Linked DNA regions of Homo sapiens: all the other regions are reported to be linked to region 3. Evidence: microRNA targets listed by miRTarBase, many of them from high-throughput screens and not tested one by one. Region 3 holds a microRNA gene; each other region holds the end of a gene's coding sequence.
Evidence for each region. Region 3 holds the annotated microRNA hsa-miR-30d-5p (UGUAAACAUCCCCGACUGGAAG, at 1,328-1,349, shown strand). A microRNA usually pairs through its seed, bases 2 to 8, with sites in the 3' UTR of a target mRNA and lowers its output. Matches are read on the target gene's strand: a 7mer-m8 pairs with bases 2 to 8, a 7mer-A1 pairs with bases 2 to 7 and ends in A, and an 8mer does both.

Region 1 (4,251 bases), not on the chromosome of region 3:
GTCTCGAACTCCTGACCTCAAGTGATACACCCACCTTGGCCTCCCAGAGTGCTGGGATTGCAGGTGTGAGCCACCGCGCCTAGCAAGAAGTATTTATTTTTACTAATAAAGCTTTAATTTAGGTGATAAAAAAGAAAAAAGCCTTATTTCTATTTTTGGCCAAAAGTTGTATTATTTATCTGTATAGCAATGCATACATCTTCCAATATATGCACAACTAACTGTTAGGAAGGTGTAAGATAATCATATTAAACAAGTACTGTGTATATATATATATATATATATATATATATATATAGCCACTTCTCAAGAGAAAGCAATAGAAATCTGATTTTCACATTTTTGTTTGTGTTTAAGGTGAGTTCTTCTTAAAAGGATAAAGGAGTTAAAATATTAGAAACTGCACTTGTTTGTGAATGAAATTTGAATTTAAAAATGGTGTTATATGATATAATTTAAGCTTTGATATTAAAACTGGCTTGTCACCACTTCTATTTTTTTTTTTCTAGCTATGGAAGATTAAGTCATGACAATTCAAAGAAAAGAAGATGTAGCCTCTTTTCCAGAATAAGAGTACTGACTAAGCTGCCTGAAAGCTTGTCACTGATTCTTTGCTTCAGGAGTCTCAGCTAGGGAGTTGAAGTGTTTACATCAGACTGTCTTGTGCAATTCTTATATTTATTTTACTGGTTCACTTTTTTTTACATTTATTTTAGTCTTTATATTTTTATTTTTAAGCATTGATGTACTTAGTTGTTGAAAGGGTGATGAAACTGATATCCAGATACTTGAGATCCTGGTAATTGGTCATAAATAATTGGCAAAATAACAAATTGTGAAAATAGAAGCCATTGCTCAGCACCGTTTCTCCATCAATGCCGTGAACTTGCCTTACTTGAGGAAAAATTCTTTAACTTTGGAATATTGCATTGAACTCAGCTATACACATAAAACATTTTCTTTGGTAAATCAAGATCCAGTCAGGGTTTCTCTTGAATTATTTTGGAACAATGCCAGGATCCAAACTGATTAAGTTACAGTTTAAGCACCCTTCAGTATTAATATATACGGTATTATATAACAGGTCAACAAGTGCTCTTTGATGATAAAACTTGTAATAGAGCAATAATTGTAAATGGTTACCATACTGTAAGATATTTTGATAAAAATTAACTAGTAATACTTGTATTTATTTGAAACACTGGGCTGTTTGCACAGCTCCAACTGTGCATGCTCAAAATGTGCACTTTTTAAAATTGTTACTTTTAATGCGTATCTTTATATGGGATCTGTTATAGTATACTAGGGCATGATATGGTATCCTTTTGAGTGAGGTATATACTCATCTCACAAGTGAAGTGCCTACTGATATTACTAAAGTACATTATGTTTACTCAAGTAAATAATTTTCTCCCCATGGTACACTCTAGTGTAGGCTATTCATACCACACTGAAATGAACAACTGAAGAATAAGGCTAAGAACCAATAAAATATTTCTCTAATTGCTAGTTGTAAAACTGTATCCAAATTTTCAGAAAAGACAGCTTCAGCTTGCAAATTCTATCCTCTAAACTTATCTGGTGCATTCTCCCCACCCCACCCCCATTATATAAGGGCTATTTTAGATGCTTTTAACCTCCCCAACAAATAATTTGCCAAGTGTCCAATGAGAACTTATCATGTTGGTGTGTTAGGTAAATCGGGCAAATATGATAGTGTCTTACATTGGGCCTTGATTTTAAGTTGTTATATTTGTACAATCGAGTATTTTAGAAATTACATGAAACATGAAACAGTTTTTGCAATTTTTTTTAAACTGGGCATCTGGTTTCTAAAAATTTATTTGAAACAATCTAGAATTTTCTTGGTGCAAAGTGTATCATGTGGAATATCCTCATATTTTTACCATATTTTAAGAACTTTAAGACGATTAATTGTAAATAATTTATTTGATTGGTGCAGTTCTAATCCCTAAATCATAATCTTAAAATCAGGAATGTGTGGAGAACAGAGCCATGTCATATCACTTTGCTCTTACCATTCCTTTTGATCAGCCTCAATTCAGCCTCATTGTGTAGTATGTTTTTTCTTTCTATGAAAAACAACAGAAAGCATTTCATTTTATTTGCCTATGTTCAAATATGTTTAATAATGACCAAAGTGCATTCTGAGTTTTTTCAAGGAATGTAATACTGGAGCTTTAAGAACATACTTAGTTTCTCATGTGAAAACTTAGGCTTTGTCTGATGTTTTTCCTTCCTCTATTGTCTAATGTTGAGGTTGTTTTTAGGAATTATGTTTTATAAACTTTTTCAATATAAGGTACATGCCTATACAGAACTTAACATTTTGCACAGAATATATCAAATATATTTTGAGAAAAAAAGTACGGCATGAGTTCTGTTAGGAATAAAAGATGAAACTATTGTATCTCACAAAAAATCTTATTTCAGAATGGAAATATTTTTGAGAAAAGTAGCTGAGTATACTGGTTTAAGAAAATGCTTGTTTTAGATTGAGGTTAACTTAGAGTTGGGAGTTGATTTATTAAGTACAGTATACCTCTCAACAGTTTATAAATAATATGTTGAATTATGTCAGTGTGGGCAGCAGTAGAATACTAAAAGGAAAATGTCATGTTAAGCAATTTCAGAACATTAACTGAACTATTTTCAAAGCAGAAAAATTGACATTGCTGCCTTTAAGAATACCATGAATGTAAGAAATTGAAAGAAATTGTAAAATATCACATAATATAGAAATGGCAGTTCAAAGAGAATTGTGGCAGATGTTGTGTGTGAACTGTTGTTTCTTTGCCACATGTGTTGTATTTGAAAGTTTTACAGTAAGTTTAAAATAAAACATTCTGTGACTGACGGTGTTTTTTTTTTTAATTTTCAGGTCATATACATTTCTATGGTAATTTTGTGTTTACTTAACATAAAATTTAGTTAGATTTGGGGGGAGTGAAAATAAATTTTTTATAACTTTCCAACATTTTAGATTTTGTTATGATTCTTAGAACATGAAAGAATAATACACAGGTTTTTCATCACCAAAATGATATTATATCATTAATGTTTGTTTGCTTCTTTGTTTTTGAATACAGCAAACTGGCTGTGGCCTGAAATATTAAAGCTCATTGTGAAAAGATAGTGGTTTTTTTGGTTTGTTTGTTTGTTTTGAGACGGAGTCTCACACTGTCACCTGGGCTGGAGTGCAATGGCACAATCTTGGCTTACTGCAACCTCTGCCTCCCAGGTTCACACCATTCTCCTGCCTCAGCCTCCTGAGTAGCTGGGATTACAGGCGCCCACCACCACGCCCTGCTAATTTTTTGTGTTTTTAGTAGAGATGGGGTTTCTCTATGTTGGCCAGACTGGTCTCAAACTCCTGATCTCATGATCTGCCTGCCTCGGCCTCCCAAAGTGCTGGGCTTATAGGCGTGAGCCACTGTGCCCAGCCGATAGTGGTGTTTTTAAACAAATGATTTTGCCACATGAATTTAGCATGAGAGATTATGATCAACAGTAGGATGGTTAAACATTCTAATATTTCTGTTATCTGATTGGTCCAAGTGTTCACTGGGCTTAAATTAATCTAGGACTATTAATTCAAGTGCACTTTCAAACTTACTTTAAGCTTACAAATGGCTCTTTTAATGAATCTCCCTTCATACTTCAAAATAGCAATATGACTGGCACTTCTTAATTGTTTGCTGTATCACTTAGAACATAATTCTCAACTTTTTTTCTGCCAAGCCTATACAAAAAGACACCACAAATGCTTAACAGTAGCACTGGCTCCCCAAAGTACTTACTGCCTGGGGAATCTAAAAGGCCATTAGGGATGGGAAAAACCCAAGTGTTTTTTTCTACTCTCACACCATTCAGCATAACACTTCTGATACCAGATTCTCTGGCAGACACCAACTGGGTGTTTTAGAATTTAACTCAGCTCTAACACTACACCCAAAAGAATGTCAGATCCCACAGGTTGAGGGCTCATTCCCACCAGACTGCCCCCACTTCAGATGCCAGGCACAAGACCCAGGTTGTGATCTGCCTCCCCATCAGGGTTCCTACGACCCTCTTCTTGGGTTCAGTTAATTTGCTAGAGAAACATTTAACTTTTACAGGTTTATTATAAAGGATACAGATGATGGAGGAGATGCATAGGCAAGGTATGGGCGAAAGAGTGTGGAGCTTTCATGCCCTGTCCAGAGTGTGCCACACTCCAGGAGGCTCCAT
Region 2 (4,251 bases), not on the chromosome of region 3:
GTGGCTTTCAGTTTACTTGCTAAAATTCATATTGTATTTACCATGACCAGAGGGGTTTAAGAGTAGAATCTGCTTTCTTTGTTTCATTGGGGAAAAACCTGACTCTGTTTCTTACAGTTTCAGCAAGAAAAACATCTGCCAGCCAGTGACCCGGAAAACCTTCATGAAAAACAACTTTGAACACATCCAGCACATTATCATTGATGACGCTCAGAATTTCCGTACTGAAGATGGGGACTGGTATGGGAAAGCAAAGTTCATCACTCAGACAGCAAGGGATGGCCCAGGAGTTCTCTGGATCTTTCTGGACTACTTTCAGACCTATCACTTGAGTTGCAGTGGCCTCCCCCCTCCCTCAGACCAGTATCCAAGAGAAGAGATCAACAGAGTGGTCCGCAATGCAGGTCCAATAGCTAATTACCTACAACAAGTAATGCAGGAAGCCCGACAAAATCCTCCACCTAACCTCCCCCCTGGGTCCCTGGTGATGCTCTATGAACCTAAATGGGCTCAAGGTGTCCCAGGCAACTTAGAGATTATTGAAGACTTGAACTTGGAGGAGATACTGATCTATGTAGCGAATAAATGCCGTTTTCTCTTGCGGAATGGTTATTCTCCGAAGGATATTGCTGTGCTTTTCACCAAAGCAAGTGAAGTGGAAAAATATAAAGACAGGCTTCTAACAGCAATGAGGAAGAGAAAACTGTCTCAGCTCCATGAGGAGTCTGATCTGTTACTACAGATCGGTGATGCGTCGGATGTTCTAACCGATCACATTGTGTTGGACAGTGTCTGTCGATTTTCAGGCCTGGAAAGAAATATCGTGTTTGGAATCAATCCAGGAGTAGCCCCACCGGCTGGGGCCTACAATCTTCTGCTCTGTTTGGCTTCTAGGGCAAAAAGACATCTGTATATTCTGAAGGCTTCTGTGTGACAGGAAACCCAAGCCTAAGAAACAATTAAGTGGTTCTCATCTCTAATTAACTGTGAAACCATTTAATCCAAACATGTAAGCACACACTCACTTATTAAGTCACATACTTTTCTAGGTGCTGGGGATTGAGAACGAATCGATGTAAGATTCCTCCTTTAGGGCAGAGACAGACCACTGACAAATACACAGATAGACAAGGAATTTCCCATGGTAAAAAGGGATATCAGTAATTAGAGGACCGTGAGACTCAGAGATGTGTGTGTGTGTGTGTGTGTGTGTGTGTGTGTGTGCGCGCGCGCACGTGCACATGTGTGTAGGTAGATGGAGGGGGTGATTATTTTGGGTGGTCAGGGAAGTGCTCAGTGAGGGAAGAACTTGTCATGAGAATCTCTGAGCGTGCCAGGCAGACTCGGATATTTTTATAAATTTTTAACATGGCCACTTGCAGAAGAGCTTGAATGGGACGTGCAGCGAGAATGTGAAGGATGGAGCAGGTAGCTCATCTGGCCTTGTAGGTGCCGGGAACGGGCAAGACATGTTTTGAAATGTAAGATCACAGACTGTTTTTTGCAAGACCACATTATATTACTTTATTATTTTCTGCTTTTTCTTTTAACGACATTAGTGTTTTTGATCACTATATTTTAAAATGCTTTTTGTGAGCCTTTTGGTTATGTGGAATCTGTTCCTTAGCTCTGATTTTTTATTCTTATGGAGCGTCTTAGGTTACTACATGAAGGTAAGACTGCCACAGTCCCCCAGGGAGGCACACTGTGTTTTACTGATTGATTTGAAGATGATAGAGAGCCTAGGGGGATGAGTCTATTGGACTCAAAGGTTACATTTTGTTTTTCCATTTAATTTAATAATCAACAAAACGACAAAGTCAGTTTAATATCTTTCTTCTGCTGAGTCTTCAGGATGTTAGCTAGTCTTTCAAAAGCCATTGCTACAAAAGTGCAAATTTCTCATTTCCTGTGGGTCTCTAGAAACTCTCTCAATATTTAAAGCCAAACAAATCCATCTTTTCTGAGAGACAGAAACTAAAAAATTCAGAGTTAATTCACTATTAAAAACAGCAAGGCCCTGCTATTTCCCAAGAATAAAGAAATTTAAAATTCTCATTGTAAGAAGTATGAACTTGAAGCTAGAATTGGTTTATTTCTGGCAGCTACTTACAATATTAAGAACTTTACTTTTTAAATTTGAGACAATTTCACAGGAAAGCAAGAAATTAGTCTATTGTGAAATGTTTTTACAACTAACTTGGAATATACTGCAAATCACTAGTAAGTAGAGACACATTTAAGATAAAATGATTAATAAAACAATTGGTAATTCTGAATAAGGATCTGAATAAATCCAGATCACAGACTGTTCCTTTACCAATATGTAAAAGAATGTGCAAAATTAGTAAAAATATACCCAAAAATTTACCAGCAACAGAGAAGCAAAGAATGGAGTTCAACCTTACACTATAAACATCTAATAGATATGTATGAAAATTTAAAAACTAGAAAAGGTTGGGCATGGTGGCTCATGCTTGTGATCCCAGGACTTTAGGAGGCCAAGGTGGGAGGATTGTTTGAGCCCAGGAGTTCAAGACCAGCTTGAGCAATATAGTGAGACCCTGTCTCTACAAAAACAAACAAACAAACAAACAAATAAATAAATAAATAAAATTAGCTGGGAATGGTGATGCACACCTGGAGTCCTAGCTACTCAGAAGGCTGAGGCAGGACGATCACTTGACCTCAGAAGTCTGAGGTTACAGTGAGCTATGATCATACCAGTGCACTCCAGTCTGGGTGACAGAACAAGACCCTGTCTCCAAAAATTAAATAAATAAAACAAAAAAAAAGAATTTAAAAGTTTTATATAAAGGCATAGCTACTATCTCATCTGCCCAGTGTAGTCATGAATAGATGTCACATAAAGAAAAGAAAACCAGAATTCTTGTTAATATGGCCAGTTTGAAGGGTGGTGGCGGAGGTATTGAGCAGGCAGCTCAGGGAAATGCCAGGGAGACCCTTGAGCACAGAAACTCCTGATTGTCCCCAGGGACTCTCCGTGGACACAGGAGGGATTTTCCAGGATTTCACATGAATTCAATGAAGGGGGCTGTGTCTTATTCCTGGATGCTTTGCCTCCTTCATGGAATTCAGTGGATTTAATGGAAGTTCCTAGGCAACAATAAAGAGTAGAAACCAGGTTAACAGCGAGGGCCTCATCTCACACCAGATCATATCAGGCTACACAAAAGTAGATGGAAGACACCACCCAGGCCTCCAGCTATACACTGGAGAAGAAGCCAAACTAGTCTACTTCATCTAAGAAAGTTGTCAAAGAGAGCCCTTCTATACTATCTTAAGGTAAAAAGAAAGACTCTACCCAGCTGCCCTGATTAAGCATTAGAAAGATAAGTGTTCTGATCATTAGGCGAAAGACAATGGGGAAAAATGTAGAAAAGAAATATGACATGAGCCAGATGAAGAACCCATCCTGAAAGGATATATAACTCAGGGGACAAAAGACAACTCACCATAAGTTGGGCGCAGTGGATCACGCCTGTAATCTCAGCATTTTGGTAGGCCAAGGCAGGTGGATCACCTGAGGTCAGGAGTTCAAGTCCAGCCTGGCCAACGTGGTGAAATCCTGTCTCTACTAAAAATACAAAAATTAGCTGGGTGTGGTGGTGCATGCCTGTAATACCAGCTACTCAGAAGGCTGAGGCAAGAGAATTGCTTGAATCAAGGAGGCAGAGGTTACAGTGAGCCAAGATCAGGCCATTGTACTTCAGCCTGGGCGACAAAGTGAGACCCTGTCTCAAAAAACAAACAAAGCCTCCCCATAGATGTCTCCTGCCATAGAAGAATTTAAGAAGTTCATAAATTCAATAAAACAAGAGTTGAAGGCCTGTCCCACTGTACCCAATTTCTCCCTCTCTGAACTGCAGCCTAGAAACTCTCTACAGGCAGTAAGCTGGGGCAGTCACAGAGGTGACCTCATCTGTTTCCCACATCCTGCATTAGGACAGTGATCAGGGATCAGTATCCTTCATTGACTGATTTCCAATATCTCGAGACCTGTTGTTTCATATATTTTGCCTTATTTTGCAATTGTTTCATATATTTTGTCTTATTTTGCAATTGTTTCAGGAGGGAGGATAAATATGGTCCCTGTTCCTCTATCTTGACCAGAAGCATCTAAGAAGGCAGTGAAGCAACATGTGTACAGTTCTTAGGGAAACAAATTTTGACCTAAAAATATTAAACCTAGTCAAAATATTATTCTAGTACAAAGGCAGCACATGGGTA
Region 3 (4,251 bases):
ATTATCACAGGGTAAATATCAGCAACTGAAATCCTTTTCTCATAGTTTCTCAAAAAATTTGGTATTAGGAAATTAATAGTCTCTCAGAATTTGTATATTGGTTTTCTTCAGTAGTTATTCTGTAGAGTGTGTGTGTACATATGCATGCTCATGTATGTATGTATGTTCATTTCTTAAATCATTTCATAAATCACTGTGACTTAATTGTGGACTTTAATTGTTTTCATAGTTTTTTTCCCCAAAAGAAGGTTACTTTACATATTTTATTTTATTTTTATTTTTATTTTTTTTGAGACAGGGTCTCACTCTGTCGCCCAGGCTGCAGTGCAGTGGCATGAGCTCAGCTCACTGCAGCCTCCACCTCCCAAGCTCAGGGATCCTCTTACCTCAGCCTCCCGAATAGCTGGGACCGCATGCACCACCACACCCAGCTAATATGTTGTATGTTTTTAGAGGTAGGGTTTTGCCACTTAGCCCAAGGCTGGTCTTGAACTCCGGGACTCAAGCGATCTACCCATCCACCTGCCTCGGCCTCCCAAAGTGCTGTGATTATAGACATGAGCCACTGTGCCTGGCAATTTTACATATTTTAAATTAAAGCAAATCTTGGTTTTTGATGGAATGCAGATTTACTTATATTTCACTTAGTCTTTTTCCTTTCTTTCAGAAAAGTGGTGTGGAAACAAAATGGTTTTAGTATATTGCCTTATAAACAAATTTAAGATCATGAGTTTCTTTTATTATCCTCTTTGTTTTGCTCATTTCCTTGAACTGTACATCCCTAACCTAAATCAGCTGGAGACAGGGGAAGAAAGTGTTAGATTCTTACTCAGTTTAGATCCTCTGCCAGGAAAACCCACTCTATTCATTGTCAACTAAATTAACGCTTTTTTAAATAAAAGGAGTCATTTTTAACAATAACGTCAGGGCAGCAGGCATCCATGAAATGTATGGTCACTGATCATTAGGGTTATCATTCTAATGTGTTTACTATTTTGAAACTCTAGGGAGAAGAAAACTTATTTTTGCATATGTTGGAAAAATGTATCCTCATGTAGGATATCAGGGTAATATCTTTAATGTTTCATACTTACCAAGATAAATTTGTAATGCGTATTTTCTTTTAAAATTAGATTTATTTAGGAGAAATTGCACTTGGTGAACCACTTTCTCTTTAATTATTAGCATTAACTTTATCATTTTTGTTTCAAGATGTCACAGCTATTGTTCAGCACTAGAAATTATATAAATTATTAGCTGAAGATGATGACTGGCAACATTTATGTCTGTTCCTCCTCTTAAATTTCTTGTTCAGAAAGTCTGTTGTTGTAAACATCCCCGACTGGAAGCTGTAAGACACAGCTAAGCTTTCAGTCAGATGTTTGCTGCTACCGGCTATTCACAGACATCCTCTTGATATAATTCTGTCCCGGAGTGGAGTTGAGGAGGCTATAAAATGTGTGGGAAAACCTCAGAAATCTTTAGCTGCATTCTTTTACTGCACTGACAGTGCACGTATTATGATAGTTGAATGTAGGGTGCTCTCCTAATAACAGGATATGCCGTCTCGAGCTTCCCAGACTTAGCGTGCTGCTGCTGGGCCTTAGAGAATTTAGTTAAATAAAAAGTGTCACCGCCTATTCCTGTTTCTGCCCTGTCAATGAAATTTTAGTCTTTATAACCTTTCCAAGTAGGCTGGAGTTTAACATCCCAACAATTCAGGAGACTGATTTTCTCCATTGTAAATTCTGTGGAAGTTCTGGAGAATAATTTCATCACTACCACCCAGCAGTATGCAATCTAGAAATTTCAGCTTTCCCTATACTTAAAAGAGATGTGTGTGCAACATTTTTCTCCGTCCTCTTAGCCCCCCACTTCCTGTTCCCCTCACCCTGAGTGATATTACAGCTCCTAATCAGAACTCTCCTCTAAGAAAAACTGCAAGACGTCAAGCCACTAAGCCTGTTTACATTTGCTAATGGGTATGCATGTCTTTTTATATTAATATTTTTCCTAAGTATTTTCAGATTGTTGCTTTCAGATTTATTGCTTCCTCCTTAAAATATAGCTGCCCTGAAAGCAGCTGTATTGTATCTATTTTTTGTGTTTCCCCACAGATCTGAATAATCCAGGGCTTTTCTCACAGATGACACTCAGTGTGGACTAATTGATAATGTATAATTTTATAGCAACTATTTTCTGAGTTTTAAAAAATTGTTATTTTATTTCTGTTAGTCTTTCAGACACTGGAAAACATTTCTATTTTATTGGCATTTTTCTTTTCAATAAAGCATTGGTTTTTTTAAATCATTTATTTTTATTAAACTGCTAAACATACTATGTTAGGTTCCATACATGATTAAACCACCAAAAGATAAAGGTCTTGCCAATCTAATGTATTTACATGCTTATTTTCTTTGATTAGATTATAAGCTTTCTGAGGTCAGAGACATTAAATCTTGATAATTCTATTTTTTCCTGTTATAAACAGCAAGTAAAGCACCTTGCATGTATAGTACTTTAGTAATGATTTTATATTATCTTATTGCAGCAGTGTCTACTGTTGCCTCTTATCTTTTATCCAGATGAGCAAATGACAGTTTTGGTCATAATGTAGTTACCCCAGATGTATTTGTGCTACAGCTTTTATTTTTTAAATGCTCTTTTGTTAGAGTAGTAGTTTATAAGACTTATTTGGGGATGGGGGTCAGTTGCTTCAGACTCAGGTGGCTTTCCAACTTGTAAATACAATTTTCAGGCTGGATGATTAGCATGCATCAAGCATCCCTTCCTATGAACTCTAAATAAAGCAGATTTATTGCATATTCTGTGGCCCTCTGTTTTAGCACATTGGAAACCTTAGACTCAAATAGCAGTGAAAGGATAGTTATTGCTGAGCTCAGAAGTCTTCCCTGCCAAAGGTAGAATGTAATGTGTTCTGTGGTAATAGGATTATTTTGTTTGACCAGGTGACACTGTTTATTTCTTATGAAAAATTTTGATATACTGCTTTAAAATTTAGTAAGATGGATGCATAATTTATGCAGTGAAATTTGAAAGGTTTTTCAAAATGATAAGGCCAAACCTAAGCTAAATGAGGGGGTAGGCATTCTTTATAATAAAGCTGTTATACTCTGCCCAGCTAGGCCAGTTATCCCTAGATGCTACAGATTAATGGGGCAATCTGTGTTATGTAACATTTGTTCTATATTATTCTGCCTCTAATGAGGTGAATCAAAGACGATGTCAGTTTTAATTCTGGATGCCCTTGCTTCAGTATAGTATAATACATAGGTACAGCCTTTTTTAGTAGTTTTCAGATGGCTTCTTTATGTTTTTATATTGAAGAACCACTAACTTCCCATTGGCCTATAAGGTTAGCAATTGATTATTTATAGCAAATGGCTTGAAATGTTAGATCATCAGTATTTGTCAATAAGCCTGTAATAACTTGTTTCCCTAGCCCTTAACTTAGTGTTGAAGAAAAAAATTGTGGTATTCATTGATAGGACTTAGAAAGCACAGAAATTACTTATTATTTAAGATTTGTTCTACCAATTGATATTTAAAGTAAAACATTTTTAGTTACTGAACACCATTCTGTAAATGACAGTATTTTATCCTGAGTATATGGTCTGAAATGACTTAGGGACAACTTTTTAAAGCAAATAACTAATTACAAAATTGGGTCTTCCAATTTATTTCAAATTAGATGCTTTTGTACAAATATTCTTGGTTAGAAATAGTCATATAAATACACTGTTGGACTTGTTCTCATTGATCTCCACACCTCAGTTCCTTCTACATGAGTCATGGGCTTGAGGTTACCCAGAAATGGACTGTGAACCTATAAACCCCAGCATGCATGTGGTATTGCGTCGAGCATGTTCTGTGATTCCCTTCTACTCTTGTTACAGCTTTATTCATTGGATCAATGTGCATTATTTGCTGTGTGTGCTCAGGTAATATTTTTGTTTCTTTTTTTTAGTTTGAATATCAGTTTGGGCTTAGTTACTTTTTAAAATAAGGCTGTTTCAGATAGTCTCTGCCACACTTTGCCTAGCCTGGTTAATTGTGGGTGGACCCATGCTACATGTTTTGGCATTGCCTTTTTCTTATCTGTACCATATTACAAACTTCCTAGTAATTTGACATTCACTGCTGTCTTTGCTTTAGCTTTCCAACAGGTTTGGTGAAACAGTCCATTGCTGTTCAATATCAGCTTGCATCAGAATTACTTGGAGGGCTTAT

Region 1: the mRNA of PHTF2 is a reported target of hsa-miR-30d-5p. Seed matches in the 3' UTR shown: 8mer at 644-651 and 7mer-m8 at 1,388-1,394.
Region 2: miRTarBase lists SLFN5 as a target of hsa-miR-30d-5p. The part of its 3' UTR that is shown has no 7-base or 8-base seed match.

The regions. Positions count from the first base shown.
Region 1 is chr7:77,954,349-77,958,599 of GRCh38, forward strand. PHTF2 (putative homeodomain transcription factor 2) reads left to right here. Exons shown (of 19, transcript NM_001395272.1): 19 at 510-2,877. The coding sequence ends at 530. Among named protein-coding and RNA genes, the nearest start is that of DDX3ILA1, 34 kb to the right of the region's middle.
Region 2 is chr17:35,264,955-35,269,205 of GRCh38, forward strand. It overlaps SLFN5 (schlafen family member 5), which reads left to right. Exons shown (of 5, transcript NM_144975.4): 5 at 118-4,251. The coding sequence ends at 934. Among named protein-coding and RNA genes, the nearest start is that of SLFN5, 24 kb to the left of the region's middle.
Region 3 is chr8:134,802,017-134,806,267 of GRCh38, reverse strand. MIR30D (microRNA 30d) reads left to right here and starts at 1,323; the gene lies at 1,323-1,392. It also overlaps a transcript of ZFAT not described here.